3 separate regions of the Homo sapiens genome follow, and regions 1 and 2 are each reported to be linked to region 3. The links are microRNA targets in miRTarBase. Many come from high-throughput screens and were not tested one by one. Region 3 holds a microRNA gene; each other region holds the end of a gene's coding sequence.
The links. The annotated mature microRNA hsa-miR-4764-5p reads UGGAUGUGGAAGGAGUUAUCU and lies in region 3 at 2,009-2,029, shown strand. An mRNA with a match to its seed (bases 2 to 7 or 8) in the 3' UTR can be bound and repressed. Matches are read on the target gene's strand: a 7mer-m8 pairs with bases 2 to 8, a 7mer-A1 pairs with bases 2 to 7 and ends in A, and an 8mer does both.

Region 1 (4,231 bases), not on the chromosome of region 3:
GTCCCAGCTACTCGGGAGGCTGATGCAGAAGAATGGCGTGAACCCGGGAGGCATAGCTTGCAGTGAGTCAAGATTGCGCCACTGAACTCCAGCCTGGGCAACAGAGTGAGACTCCATCTCAAAAAAAAAAGTAAAATAAACAGGGCGCGGTGGCTCCCGCCTGTAATCCTAGCACTTTGGGAGGCCAAGGTAGGCGCATCACCTGAGGTCAGGAGTTTGAGACCAGCCTGGCCAACACAGTGAAACCCCGTCTCTACTACAAATACAAAAAAATCAGCCAGGCATAGTGGTGGGCGCCTGTAATTCCAGCTACTTGGGAGGCTCTGTCTCCAAAACCAAACAAACAAAAAAACCCCACAAATTTTAAAAAAACAAGCTGGTGGCACTGTACATATAGGAAAATTAGTCTAGCTGATTCAAGAGTAAAATTCATACATATACAAACATAAAGAAAAATCTACTGCATTCCTGTTGTCACTGGCAATGCTCATTTGCTATAGAAACAGGGAATGTAAAGAGTGTATCAAAACAAAGGTACAGCAGCCGGGCGCGGTGACTCACGCCTGTAATCCCACCACTTTGGGAGGCTGAGGCGGGCAGCTCATGAGGTCAGGAGATCGAGACCATCCTGGCTAACACGGTGAAACCCCGTCTCTACTAAAAATACAAAAAATTAGCCGGGCATGGTGGTGGGTGCCTGTACTCCCAGCTACTCAGGAGGCTGAGGCAGGAGAATGGCGTGAACTCGGGAGGCAGCTTGCAGTGAGCCGAGATCGCGCTACTGCACTCCAGCCTGGGCAACAGAGCAAGACTCCGTCTCAAAAAAACAAAAAACAAAGGTACAGCAGATTAAGAGAAATAACACATAATACTACATGGTGACTTGATGGTAGATTATATTGGTAGGTTGACAATCAGTATGGACAAAAACAATCAACAAGCATTAGGATACTATCTCTAGTCCCAGTTTTATAGTCACCGTCTATTTCACAACTTTTCTGGAACTTGGCTTTCTCATCTATAAAATGGCAGTGAGGCCGGGCGCAGTGGATCATGCCTGTAATCCCAGCACTTTGGAAGGCCAAGGCGGGTGGATGAACTGAGGTCAGGAGTTTGAGACCAGCCTGGCTAACATGGTGAAGCCCTGTCTCTACTAAAAATACAAAAAAATTAGCCGGGCATGGTGGCGGGCACCTTTAGTCCCAGCTACTGGGGAGGCTGAGGCAGGAGAATGGCGTGAACCCGGGAGGTGGAGCTTGCCGTGAGCCAAGATTGCGCCACTGCACTCCAGCCTGGGCGACAGAGCAAGACTCCGTCTGAAAAAAAAACAAAAACAAAAACAAAAACTGTAGTGGTTGGGCATGGGGTCTAACACCTGAAACCCCAACACTTTGGGAGGCCAAGACAAGGGACTGAGGCCAGAAGTTCGAGACCAAACTGGTCAACATGGTGAGACCCCACCTCTAATTTAAAAATAATAAAAATTTGGCCGGGCACAGTGGCTCAAGCCTGTAATCTCAGCACTTTGGGAGGCCAAGGCAGGCAGATCACCTGAGGTCGGGAGGTGGAGACCAGCCTGACCAACATAGAGAAACCCCTTCTCTACTAAAAATACAGAATTAGCCAGGTATGATGGTAGATGCTTGTAATCCCAGCTTTTCCGGAGGCTGAGGGAGGAGAATCAGTTGAACCCGGGAGGCGGAGGTTGCAGTGAGCTGAGATCATGTCATTGGTCTCCAGTTGGGGCAACAAGAGCGAAACTCCATCTCAAAAATAAACATTTTTAAAAAATTAAAAAGGGGCTGGGCATAGTGGCTCACGCCTGTAAACCCAGCACATTGGGAGGCTAAGGCAGATAGATCACTTAAGATCAGGGGTTTGAGCCCGGCCTGGACAATATGGCGAAACACTCTCTATAAAAAATACAAGAATTAGCTGTGGTGGCATGCACCTGCGGTTCTAGCTACTCACGAGGCTGAGCAGGGAGGATCTCTTAAGACCTGGAGGTGGAGGTTGCAGTGAGCCAAGATCACACCATTGCACCACTCCAGACTAGGCAACAGAGGCATAACCTCTTTCAAAAAGACCTAAGACGGGAGGCTGAGGCAGGAGAATGGCGTGAACCCGGGAGGCGGAGCTTGCAGTGAGCCAAGATTGTGCCACTGCACTACAGCCTGGGAGACGGAATGATGCTCCATCTCAAAAAACCACCACCAAAAGAAACCCTAAGAAACAAAAATTAAAATAATAAAGACTGTAGTGACCTGTATATTTAAGGTTCTGAGGATGGATATATATAGATATTTTCTGTCCCTCAATATTCTTGAATAGGCCAGGCGTGGTGGCTCATGCCGTAATCCCTGCACTTTGGGAGGCTGAGGCGGGTGGATCACCTAAGGTCAGGAGTTCGAGACCAGCCTGGCATACGTGATAAAACCCTGTCTCGACTAAAAATAGAAAAAAAATTAGCTGGGCGTGGTGGCATGCACCTATGACCCCCCAGCTACTCAGGAGGCTGAGGTTGCAGTGAGCTGAAATTGCACCACTACACTCCAGCCTGGGCAACAAGAGGAAAACTCCGTCTCAAAAAAAAAATCCTTGAATAAGGAACGAAAACTTTATTTTAGGTTAGGGAGTATTTACTTATGATAAGTGCAGGCTAGAATGGTTCAGTGTTTTATCAGCAACAAAGGCAAAATCAGAACTTTTTCCTTGCCACATGTGCTACCCTATACCCTATGCTCCGTGCCTCACTTAATATACAGAAAATACCTGGAAATCCACGATACTATGGCCCAATTTTTCTGCTAGTATACTTGCATATTAACATGGGACCTAGAGAAACTTTTGGAACAAGGTGATATTTATAAAACTGTTATTCTTTGTTTGGCATCAGTATCAGTCTGTCAGAAACACCAAGTAGCTTTATTTCCTTCTTGAAATGTTACTTCTAAGCAGGCCTATTTATGTTTTTTCTAAGCCTCAATTTTCTATTTAATATTTCTCAGAATAAAGAAAACAGCTCATTTTAAACAAGAAGTTTATTTAAACAACAAGACGCTTGACTTGAAGGGAAAACTATCTAGGATTCTTTTTTGTTTTAGAGTAATTTATCCCTACTTAAAGACAGATTGCCCTACATGTAACAGCTACGTACAAAAAAGTTATAAAATTGTCCTTGGTTTTACAATGATAAATGAAAAACATTAAAATTCTCCAATTGAACAAGGTATGCAAGGATTTTTATGTTGTTGTTTTTTTTTTTTGTTAAAACAGTGAGAGCAAAATAACTTACTGGAATATAAAGATAAGAGCTGAATGAGCATGCCACTAATGGAGAAAGGGGGTATTTTCACAGAATCAGTATTTTTCCCCATCCCGTCTCCACTTGATGTCAATCAAAACATACCATTGGCTGTTTAGTTAAAAAAAAAAAAAATGCAATATGCTTGTGCACATATACCAGTTACTTTATGTACAATAAAGGAATGGGGAAGGGGGAAATGAAAGAATAGAGAAAACTATACGGTAGTAGTCAGGATGTGGTGGAACCAAATTGCAGTTTTCTAATTGAGAATGTAATCTTGGTCTTTAAAGAACAGAGTTCTGGAGTAAAGAAGCAGGTTCCCTTTTCAGTAGACACCTCCCGTCTGCTGTTGGAACACATCAATTGTATCTTCATCCTCCATTTCCAACTAGCATAAAAGAAAAAACAAATGTAAAAGCACTGATTAAGTTCTGAAAATTAATGATTTTTGGGTTTAAGTATGCTGAAAACATGTACATGTTCCACTAAGTTCCAAGTTTCATTATTTTAGATGTCTCATAGCTTAATGTATCAACACACTTGGTTTAAGTAATTTTTCACTTGGCTTCCTTTTTTATGACTATTAGATAAAACTTTTTTGTTTTTTTTTTGAGACAGGATTTCTGTCACCCAGGCTGGACTGCAGTGGCGTGATCTCAGCTCACTGCAACGTCCACCCCTCAGGTTCAAGCAATTCTCCTGCCTCAGTCTCCCAAGTAGCTGAGATTACAGGCATCCGCCACCATGCCCAGCTAATTTTTTTGTATTTTTAGTAGAGATGGGGTTTCGTCATGTTGGCCAGGCTGGTCTCAAACTCCTGAGCTCAAGTGATCTGCCTGCCTCGGCCTCCCAAAGTGCTGGGATTACAGGTGTGAGCCACTGCGCCCAGCCAAAACTTAGTTTTTGAGTAAAAAGCAGAATATT
Region 2 (4,231 bases), not on the chromosome of region 3:
CTGATTGCCCGCTTTGGCCATGGCTCAGCTGAGCTGGAGAACTGCCTCTATGTGGTGGGGGGACACACATCCCTGGCAGGGGTCTTCCCGGCCTCGCCTTCTGTCTCCCTGAAACAAGTGGAGAAATACGACCCTGGGGCCAACAAGTGGATGATGGTGGCCCCCTTGCGGGATGGCGTCAGCAATGCCGCAGTGGTGAGTGCCAAGCTGAAGCTCTTTGTTTTCGGAGGAACCAGCATCCACCGGGACATGGTGTCCAAGGTCCAGTGCTATGACCCCTCGGAGAACAGGTGGACGATCAAGGCCGAGTGCCCCCAGCCTTGGCGGTACACAGCCGCTGCCGTCCTGGGCAGCCAGATCTTCATCATGGGAGGTGACACGGAATTCACAGCCGCCTCGGCCTACCGCTTTGACTGTGAGACCAACCAGTGGACGCGGATTGGGGACATGACTGCCAAGCGCATGTCCTGCCATGCCCTGGCTTCCGGCAACAAGCTCTATGTGGTCGGGGGCTACTTTGGGACCCAGAGGTGTAAGACTCTGGACTGCTATGACCCCACTTCAGATACATGGAACTGCATCACCACAGTGCCCTACTCACTTATCCCCACGGCCTTTGTCAGCACCTGGAAGCACCTGCCCGCGTGAGGAGCACCTGCTGAGCCCAGCCAGGTGAGTCCCTGGCAGCCCACGGCCACTCTGGGTCCGGAAAGGTCATGGGGGAATGCAGTCCCACCTCTTCCCACTGGGTGAAGGTCACCGTGTCTTCCAGGGAAGTCTGGGTGGGCAGCAGGTGGCTGGTGTGCTCTGGAGTCAAATCCTGGCTCTGCCTTCTATTTGCAGTTAACCTGGAGCAAATTATTGAACCAGTCTGCAAAATGGGGACAGTAACCATGGTTAGACCAACATGGTGGTTCCCAAACATGGTTATACTTCAGAATCACCCAGGGACCTTTTGACAGTGCTGTGTGGAGCATAGGTCAACCTGCAGAGTCTGAGGGTGCAGTCTCCACACAAGCCTGCTCTTACTTTTGACACCAGGTGCAACAAAGGGGGCCTCCCAAACCACCCTCGGTCAATTTTGCCAGAAAGACTTATAGAAGTCGCTGAAGGCTGTTATGCTCACAGTTACAGTTTATTATAGGGGAAAGATACAGATTAAGATAAGCCAAGGGAAGAGACATGTACTAAGGCAGAGTCCAGGAGAATGGCCCCCTCCCCATGGAGTCAGGACAGTGTTACTCTCCTGGCACTGATGAGTGATGATATGTATGAAGATTGCCAACCAGGCCCGGGCATGGTGGCTCATGCCTATAATCCCAGCACTTTAGGAGGGCTGAGGTGGGCAGATGGCTTGAGCCCAATTCAAGACCAGCCTGGGCAATGTGAAAGTCAGTCCTGGCCGGGCACAGTGGCTCATGCCTGTAACCCCAGCACTTTGAGAGGCCGAGGTGGGCAGATCATGAGGTCAGGAGATCGAGACCATCCTGGCTAACAAGTGAAACCCCATCCCTACTAAAAATACAAAAAATGAGCCAGGCATGGTGGTGCACACCTGTAATCCCAGCTACTTGGGAGGCTGAGGTAGGAGGATCACTTGAACCTGGGAGACAGAGGCTGCAGTGAGCCAAGATCATGCCGCTGTACTCCAGCCTGGGCAACAGTGAGACTCCGTCTCAAAAAAAAAAAAAAAATGATCGCCAACCAGGCATGACATCCATGTCTAAATGGTGGAGTCCTCCAAAAAACTGTTAACTGTAAACACCAAAGCCTGCATGGTGGGAACAGACAGCCTTGGTTTGAGTCCTGTTTCTCCTGGGGGCAGCTGTGTGCTCACCAGCATGCAAGGGATGGGGAGAAGTCCTTCCTCGAAGCCGGCAGGCGTCTAGCTTAAGCGAGGTCATCCTTGAGGGCCTTGGAGCAGGGCTTCCTGCAGAGCGAGTGTCTGTGGGTTGCTGCCACACTGTCATTGTGTGGAATCGCTATGAAAACAGGTGACACGGAAGGCACTCTGTGGGAGGTGATGGTGGGACAGAGACACTGGGAGCAGTTTGAGCCAGGCCCTGCAGACCCTGCAGTGAAGGGAAGGAACGGGCGGGAGGAGTGTCTCATCTGGTGCTGGTTTAATCTCCTGAGAAGCTGAGCTGGGGGCGGGGTCTTCCCGCAGCAAATAGGGGCAGGATCGGCATGAGGTCCTGCCACGAGAGAGGGTATCCCGGCCAGCCTGGCAGGGTACTGGGGTAGATGCCAGAGAAGGGCTTTGTGCCCAACACACCCTCTGTGTTTAGGGCCTGGGAAAGGCCAGGGTGCGTGCCACTAGCCCTTGGCCATTCTCCCGGCTCATGCTGTCCTGGGCCCCTCACCCCTGCAATAGGGGCATAAGATCCCTGGGTGCACTCTGCCTCCAGCACAGGACGAGACTGTGGAAGATGAGCTGTCCTGCCGGAGGGAGCCCAGCCGCTTCCCACGATCCTGCAGCGCTGGGTGGTGGCAGTGATCCCCACGTGTGGGCTCAGCTTCAGGTCATAGGAACCCTTTCAGGAGCTGGCCCGAGCTAAACATTAATTTCCTCAGTGAGCCAGCGGCTGCTGATACAAATGCTGAAAGCTCTACCCAGTGAAGGCAGTCATTCTTAGCTGGGATTGCTTCTCAATGGAAGCTGATGGCTCAGCCTCTAACTCAGATCCAGCCAAGCCTTCGAGTCCCTTAAAGGGACATGGTGGCAGGCAAGGAGGGCCCAAGCATAAGCATCAAGTTGGTGAACACAGGGTGTTTGGGCTCACAGAGGCCAGCCTGAATAGGAACACCAGTTTTCTTTTTTCTTTTATTTTTCTTTTTTCTTTTTCTTTTTTTTTTTTTTGAGACAGTCTCGCTCTGTCACCCAGGCTAGAGTGCAGGGTACGATCTCTGCTCACTGCAACCTCCACCTCCCAGGTTCAAGGAATTCTCGTTCCTCAGCCTCCTGAGTAGCTGGGATTACAGACGTGTGCCACCGCATCTGGCTTGCTTTTTTCTTTTACAGCTTTTCTGTTTTCTTCTTCTTCTTCTTCTTCTTTTTTTTTTTTTTGAGACAGTCTCGTTCTCCCCCAGGCTGGAGTGTAATGGTGCGATCTCTGCTCACTGCAACCTCTGCCTCCTGGGTTCAAGCGATTCTCCTTCCTCAGCCTCCTGAGTAGCTGGGATTACAGGCATCTGCCACCATGCCCAGCTAATTTTTGTATTTGTAGTAGAGATGGGGTTTCACCGTGTTGGCCAGGCTGGTCTCAAACTCCAGACCTCAGGTGATCCACCCGCCTCGGCCTTCCAAAGTGCTGGGATTACAGGTGTGAGCCTTCGTGCCCGGTCTTCTTTTTTTTTAATCTGCTGTCTTTAGAGAAAAATCAGACCTGCCAAATTTCTTGATTCCCTGAGGAGTGAGATTCCAAGAGGATACTGGCATCTCCTCATTAATTCCCTGTTGCTATCCTCTAGGTCATTTAGAAACCTGGGGAATGTCACCTGTGGGAAATGGAGGCCCCTCCCACCCCAGGCCAGCCGGGCTGGGCAGTGTGAGGGGGCCCATGCTGCTGGCCTCAGGCAGCTGAGACCATCTCTGGTCTGAGCCTCCAGACCAGAGGCTGCCCCCTGCCTACCCTCCAGGTCAGAGGCTCCCTCCCACCTGGCCCTGCCCTGTCAACTGGACCTGGTGAACCATGTACTCTCCCAGGAATTGCTCTGATCCCAGGGACCCTGGAAGGAGAGCATGCATGGTGTCTTGGTTGTGACTTTTTGGCTGCTTCACCCTGGACTGGCTACTTGATTCCCCTGAGGCTCAGCTTCCCCATCTGGACAACGGGAGTGGAAATTGTATTACTCATAGCACTAGAATAGAGATCAAGTGATTGCCAGTTTCAGAAGCAGCTTAAAAGGGGTAGCGATGGAGGACAGGGAGATGCTGATGCTGATGGTTTTGGGGTGCTGTGGGCTGCAAGGGCCTCTAGATGTCTCTGCTTAGCCCCTCCCTCTGAAAGGCCTGTCCACCCATGACTGCTGTTCCTCAGCAGGCACTTGCCCTGTGCCCACTGGAGTCCTCCTCAGTCTGTAATGGGATTGCTGTCATCAGCTCCATTTAGGGATGAGGAAGCGGACACACAAGACTGAGCCAGTCCCAGATCTGATGGGGAAGCTACTTCCAGACCCTGTCATCCCAGAGCCATGTCCCCAAGGCGTTCTGGGCTGTGTGCTTCCTTGG
Region 3 (4,231 bases):
AGTTCTCTGCTCCTTGGTTCTCACCTCCCGAGCAGCAGGAGCCGGGCCTTGAGCCAAAACCTGCAGAAGGAAGAAGAGAGGAGAGTTCCCTGCGTAGAGCCATCCATCTGCTGGCTGGTGACACCAACACCAGGGCCCCAGCAGAAAAGCAAGCTTGTTCGCTCTTGTCTGACTGTTAGTAGTGATGTATGAATAAGCAAAGAAGACAGCTTCATTTTCATAAGTTAACTTGTGCCTAGACTAAGGAAGATGGAGAACAGCGCACTTAATCATAACCACAGGCCCAGCTTGGAAAACAATGACAAAGCGTTTTCTGTGAGTCACAGTGTTTTATTACAATAACTCCCAAGAAGACGAGACAGGCAGTGCAGAATGCTGAGCAAGCCAGCACCCTGTAGCCACCTGTGTCATCTCCCCCAAGGAATCCCCTGGGATTTTACCTCTTCACACGATGGCAAGCTGAAGATGTGTTTGCACCATCAAGGTTACAGCTGTAGACTTGGGCCTCTGGAGACCAGGATTTAGATGCCACCTGGATGATGGGCTGGGATTGCTGGAACTGTCACAGATCACCTGTATCATCCATGCTGTCACCTGGTAGCAGAGGGGACTTCTCTCCTAGAAGGGTGTTACCCGACAGAACCCTTATTGGAAAAGCTTTTGGGGAGGCCTGGCTGCAGTGCTGGAAGGGATGTGGTAGGTGACTCGGTGGGAAGGGAGACATCCAACTTGTCTAGCAGGTATCACCCACTTACCCCCACAGAATCAATTACTCCCTACTTATTATTCCCCCATCTTGCTAATATCGCCCTGTCACTGCTAATATCATGCTGCTTCAAAATTGTTTATCTGTCTCCTCTTCTAGCTGCCCCCAGGGCAAGAACTATGTTTTTTTTGTCTTTCATTCCTTAGTATTTTGTGTGGTGTCTGACACAACTCAAACCCTCAATCGATACTAAGCTGAACCAACGTCTCAGCAAACTAAGGGCCATGTCAGCTAAGGACAGGAGGAGATGGCTGAGCTGGAGGTCCAGGCAGATGGAGCAGAGTGTAGGACCAGGGAGTTCTGGGTGCTTCCATAAGAGCAAATGCTTACTGAACGCTTTACTATTTCATCGACGCTTTTAGTGGTAATGTTTGAATAAGCACAAAACACAGCATCATTTTCACAAATTAACTTGTGCTTAGAGGAAAAAAAAAATTAGGTATGTTACTTACTATCTCTATTTTACAAGTGAATGAAGAAGCAAGCACAGAGAGGCTAAGTACCTTGTCCAGGGTCACATAGCTAGTAAGTGGAAGAGCCAGGATTTGAGCCCAGGCGTCTGGCTCTGGTGTTCATTTTCTTCACCACTTTACTGTACTCAGGAAGTATGGCATTGGAGACTACCAATGAATTCTACTGGTTTATGAGGTGAATGTAGACACCATGTGAGTTTATTATGTGCCAGTCACCCTGCAGGTGAAATTTACCCTTGACTAAAGCAGTAACGGAGCTTCCAAACTCCAATCAGTAATTCTCAAACTTTAATGTGCATCTGAATTACCTGGGGAGTTGGTTTATTTCAATGCAAATTACTAGACCCCGTGGCCAGAATTCTTATGCAGAAATATTGTGGAGTGAGGGAATTAATATATTATTTCCCCATATGCACCACCCCCGCCCCTGCCAATATTGAACCAACTTAGAGATAAAGGAGGGAGAGCCAGATGTCACCTTATTTTACTGATAAAGGTGAAATTGGAGGACTCAACTTTAGAGTCCTTCAGTATCTACAATGGCTCTTCCTAGCACCAAAACCCAGAGTTGGAATTGCTCAGCTATCCCAAGAAGTACTAGACAACCACAGCCTCACAGAGGAGGTCTGCTCTATAAAATTTAACAGCGTGAAAGAACAGATTCGATGCAGGCTATCTGTTGGCATGCTGGCTCCTGGAAGAAGGGACAGAGGAAGAGGCTAGGCCACATCAACTTGGTTGCCTCTGAAACTCACCTTTCTCTTCCCCATGGATGTGGAAGGAGTTATCTGTCACCAGTCAGATAACTGTCACCAGTCAGTTAACTCCTTTCACACCCATGGGGAAGAGAAAAGATCGGCTCAAGGTGTCAAGAAATCCCTCCTTCTAGAAACCGGAGAAGTAGGGGAAAGCATCCTCCCACTAATAACTAACTTCTAGGTTGAATGAAGCCCAGGAGCCTGTGCTTTTAGCAAGAATCTCAGGGGTTTCTGAAACAGATAGTCCTCAGACCACACTTAGAGAGGCAGAGTTCGAGAATGGCCTAATGGTTGTGCTGGATGACCTCCAAAGAAAACCTCATGGATAAGCTTGCTGTCTATCAGGGGCTTTCGGGTTAGGATAGGCAGTGACTATCATATGTACAGTGCTTAGAGTTCCAGCTTCTGTTCTAAGAACTTAACATGTATGAAGTCATTCCAGCATGTGAAGTCACAGCAGCTGTAAGAGTTAGATACCAAGGCAGAGATAGGTTAAGCAATTTTTTTCACGGCTACGCAGCTAGAAGGTGGCAGGGCTAGGAACCGGAACCAGGCAGCCTGAGTTCAGTCCACACTCTTTATCTCCAACTATATTGATGTTCATGGTTCCCTCTTCACACAGAAGCTGGGAAGGCACAGCCTGAAAGCAAAACTCAACACCGTTGAGAGGCTAAGCAACATCGCTTACCCTTACTACTGTTTTGATCATTGATATGGCAGCTAATGAATTTCTTTTAAAAAGCAAAATGAAGTCTCAGTAGCTGCTGATTATTCTGTTTTTTTCTCACCAATGGATATTAAAGTTCTAACTATCATGTTGCTAATTAAGGAATTTTTTAAGAGGATTGGCGTGCCTGAGAGGGTTAAGTGGTACTATCAAAAGCAATGCAGCCCAGGTACAAACTGAATGAAGAGCAATTTGGATATTATTCTTTGGGATAACGTGACTTTAGGTTAACCATGAAAATCATTCCTTCTCTGGAGATGAAGACCTTGAGTTTAAGCCTTATGTAGAGCACCCCAAGTGGGTGCTGCCTCCCCATCTTTGCAGTTTTCCATACAGGGGAGCGGGTGCCTGAGTTCCCAGAGCTGGGTGGAAGGTCTGTTAATATTGGTGACTACAGAGAGGGTGAAATGATTTATGAGGACACTAACACACACCCGATCAGGAAGGTTAACCCACTAGATGTCATTTATTTAGCAGACATTTATTAAGCACCTACTGTGTGTTCAGTACTACACCTTGTAGTATCTTGCCCTTGGAATAATGCAGGAAGTGGTTATTTATAAATGAGGTCTGTGGGTGCCTGAATATTGCCAACTTCATCTTTTATGGAGTGTAAGTCAGCTGCTGGCAAAATACCCGTAGGAGCCAGGCATGGTGGCTCACGCCTGTAATCCTAGCACTTTGGGAGGCTGCGGTGGGAGGATCGCCTGAGGTTAGGAGTTCGAGATCAGCCTGGTCAACATGGCGAAACCCTGTCTCTGCTAAAAATACAAAAATTAGCCAGACATGGTGGCAGGTGTCTGTAATCCCAGCTACTCAGGAGGCTGAGGCAGGAGAATCGCTTTAACTCGGGAGGCGAAGGTTGCAGTGAGCCGAGATGGCGCCATTTGCACTCCAGCCTGGGCGACAGAGCAAGACTCCATCTCAAAAAACAAAACAAAGCAAACAAACAAACAAAAAACAGTAGGAAGTACTAAATAGTGATGTCTTCCATCTAATATGGGAATGAAGATAAAGTAATAGTTCAGACTTGGGCTTATTCATAAAAGGCTTCATGCTGGAGATGGACCTTGAAAGGATTGTGGGTGGGGATTGGCAGGGGGGGCAAGGGCAATGCCTGCCAAGGGAGAGCTATATGAGCAAGGTAGAAATTAGACCACAGGCAACAAAATATTTTTGTTTGGCAGGAATAAAGTGTAGCTCGTAGAGTATTTGTCTGAAGAAGTAAACAGGCAAAATAAAATGTATGGGATGCCACCATATAAAATTTGGCCTTTCAGATATCTGAAGATGACCTTACCTGAAATTTAGATGGACCCCCTAAATTCAATAAAAGATCCTTCCCAGGCTGGGCGCAGTGGCTCACGCTTGTAATCCCAGCACTTTGGGAGGCCGAGGCAGGCGGATCACAAGGTCAGGAGATCGAGACCATCCTGGCCAACACGGTGAAACCCCGTCTCTACTAAAATACACAAAATTAACTGGGTGTGGTGGTGTGTGCCTGTAG

Region 1: miRTarBase lists SUMO2 as a target of hsa-miR-4764-5p. Seed matches in the 3' UTR shown: 7mer-m8 at 3,539-3,545.
Region 2: the mRNA of KLHL25 is a reported target of hsa-miR-4764-5p. The part of its 3' UTR that is shown has no 7-base or 8-base seed match.

What each region holds. Positions count from the first base shown.
Region 1 is chr17:75,164,707-75,168,937 of GRCh38, forward strand. It overlaps SUMO2 (small ubiquitin like modifier 2), which reads right to left. Exons shown (of 4, transcript NM_006937.4): 4 at 880-3,695. The coding sequence ends at 3,633. Among named protein-coding and RNA genes, the nearest start is that of JPT1, 12 kb to the left of the region's middle.
Region 2 is chr15:85,764,458-85,768,688 of GRCh38, reverse strand. It overlaps KLHL25 (kelch like family member 25), which reads left to right. Exons shown (of 3, transcript NM_022480.4): 2 at 1-672. The coding sequence ends at 648. Among named protein-coding and RNA genes, the nearest start is that of MIR1276, 4.0 kb to the left of the region's middle. RefSeq lists enhancers at 1-128, 129-903, 3,835-4,231.
Region 3 is chr22:33,434,438-33,438,668 of GRCh38, reverse strand. MIR4764 (microRNA 4764) reads left to right here and starts at 2,000; the gene lies at 2,000-2,087. The region is part of intron 6 of LARGE1 (LARGE xylosyl- and glucuronyltransferase 1); the gene reads left to right. RefSeq lists an enhancer at 1-821.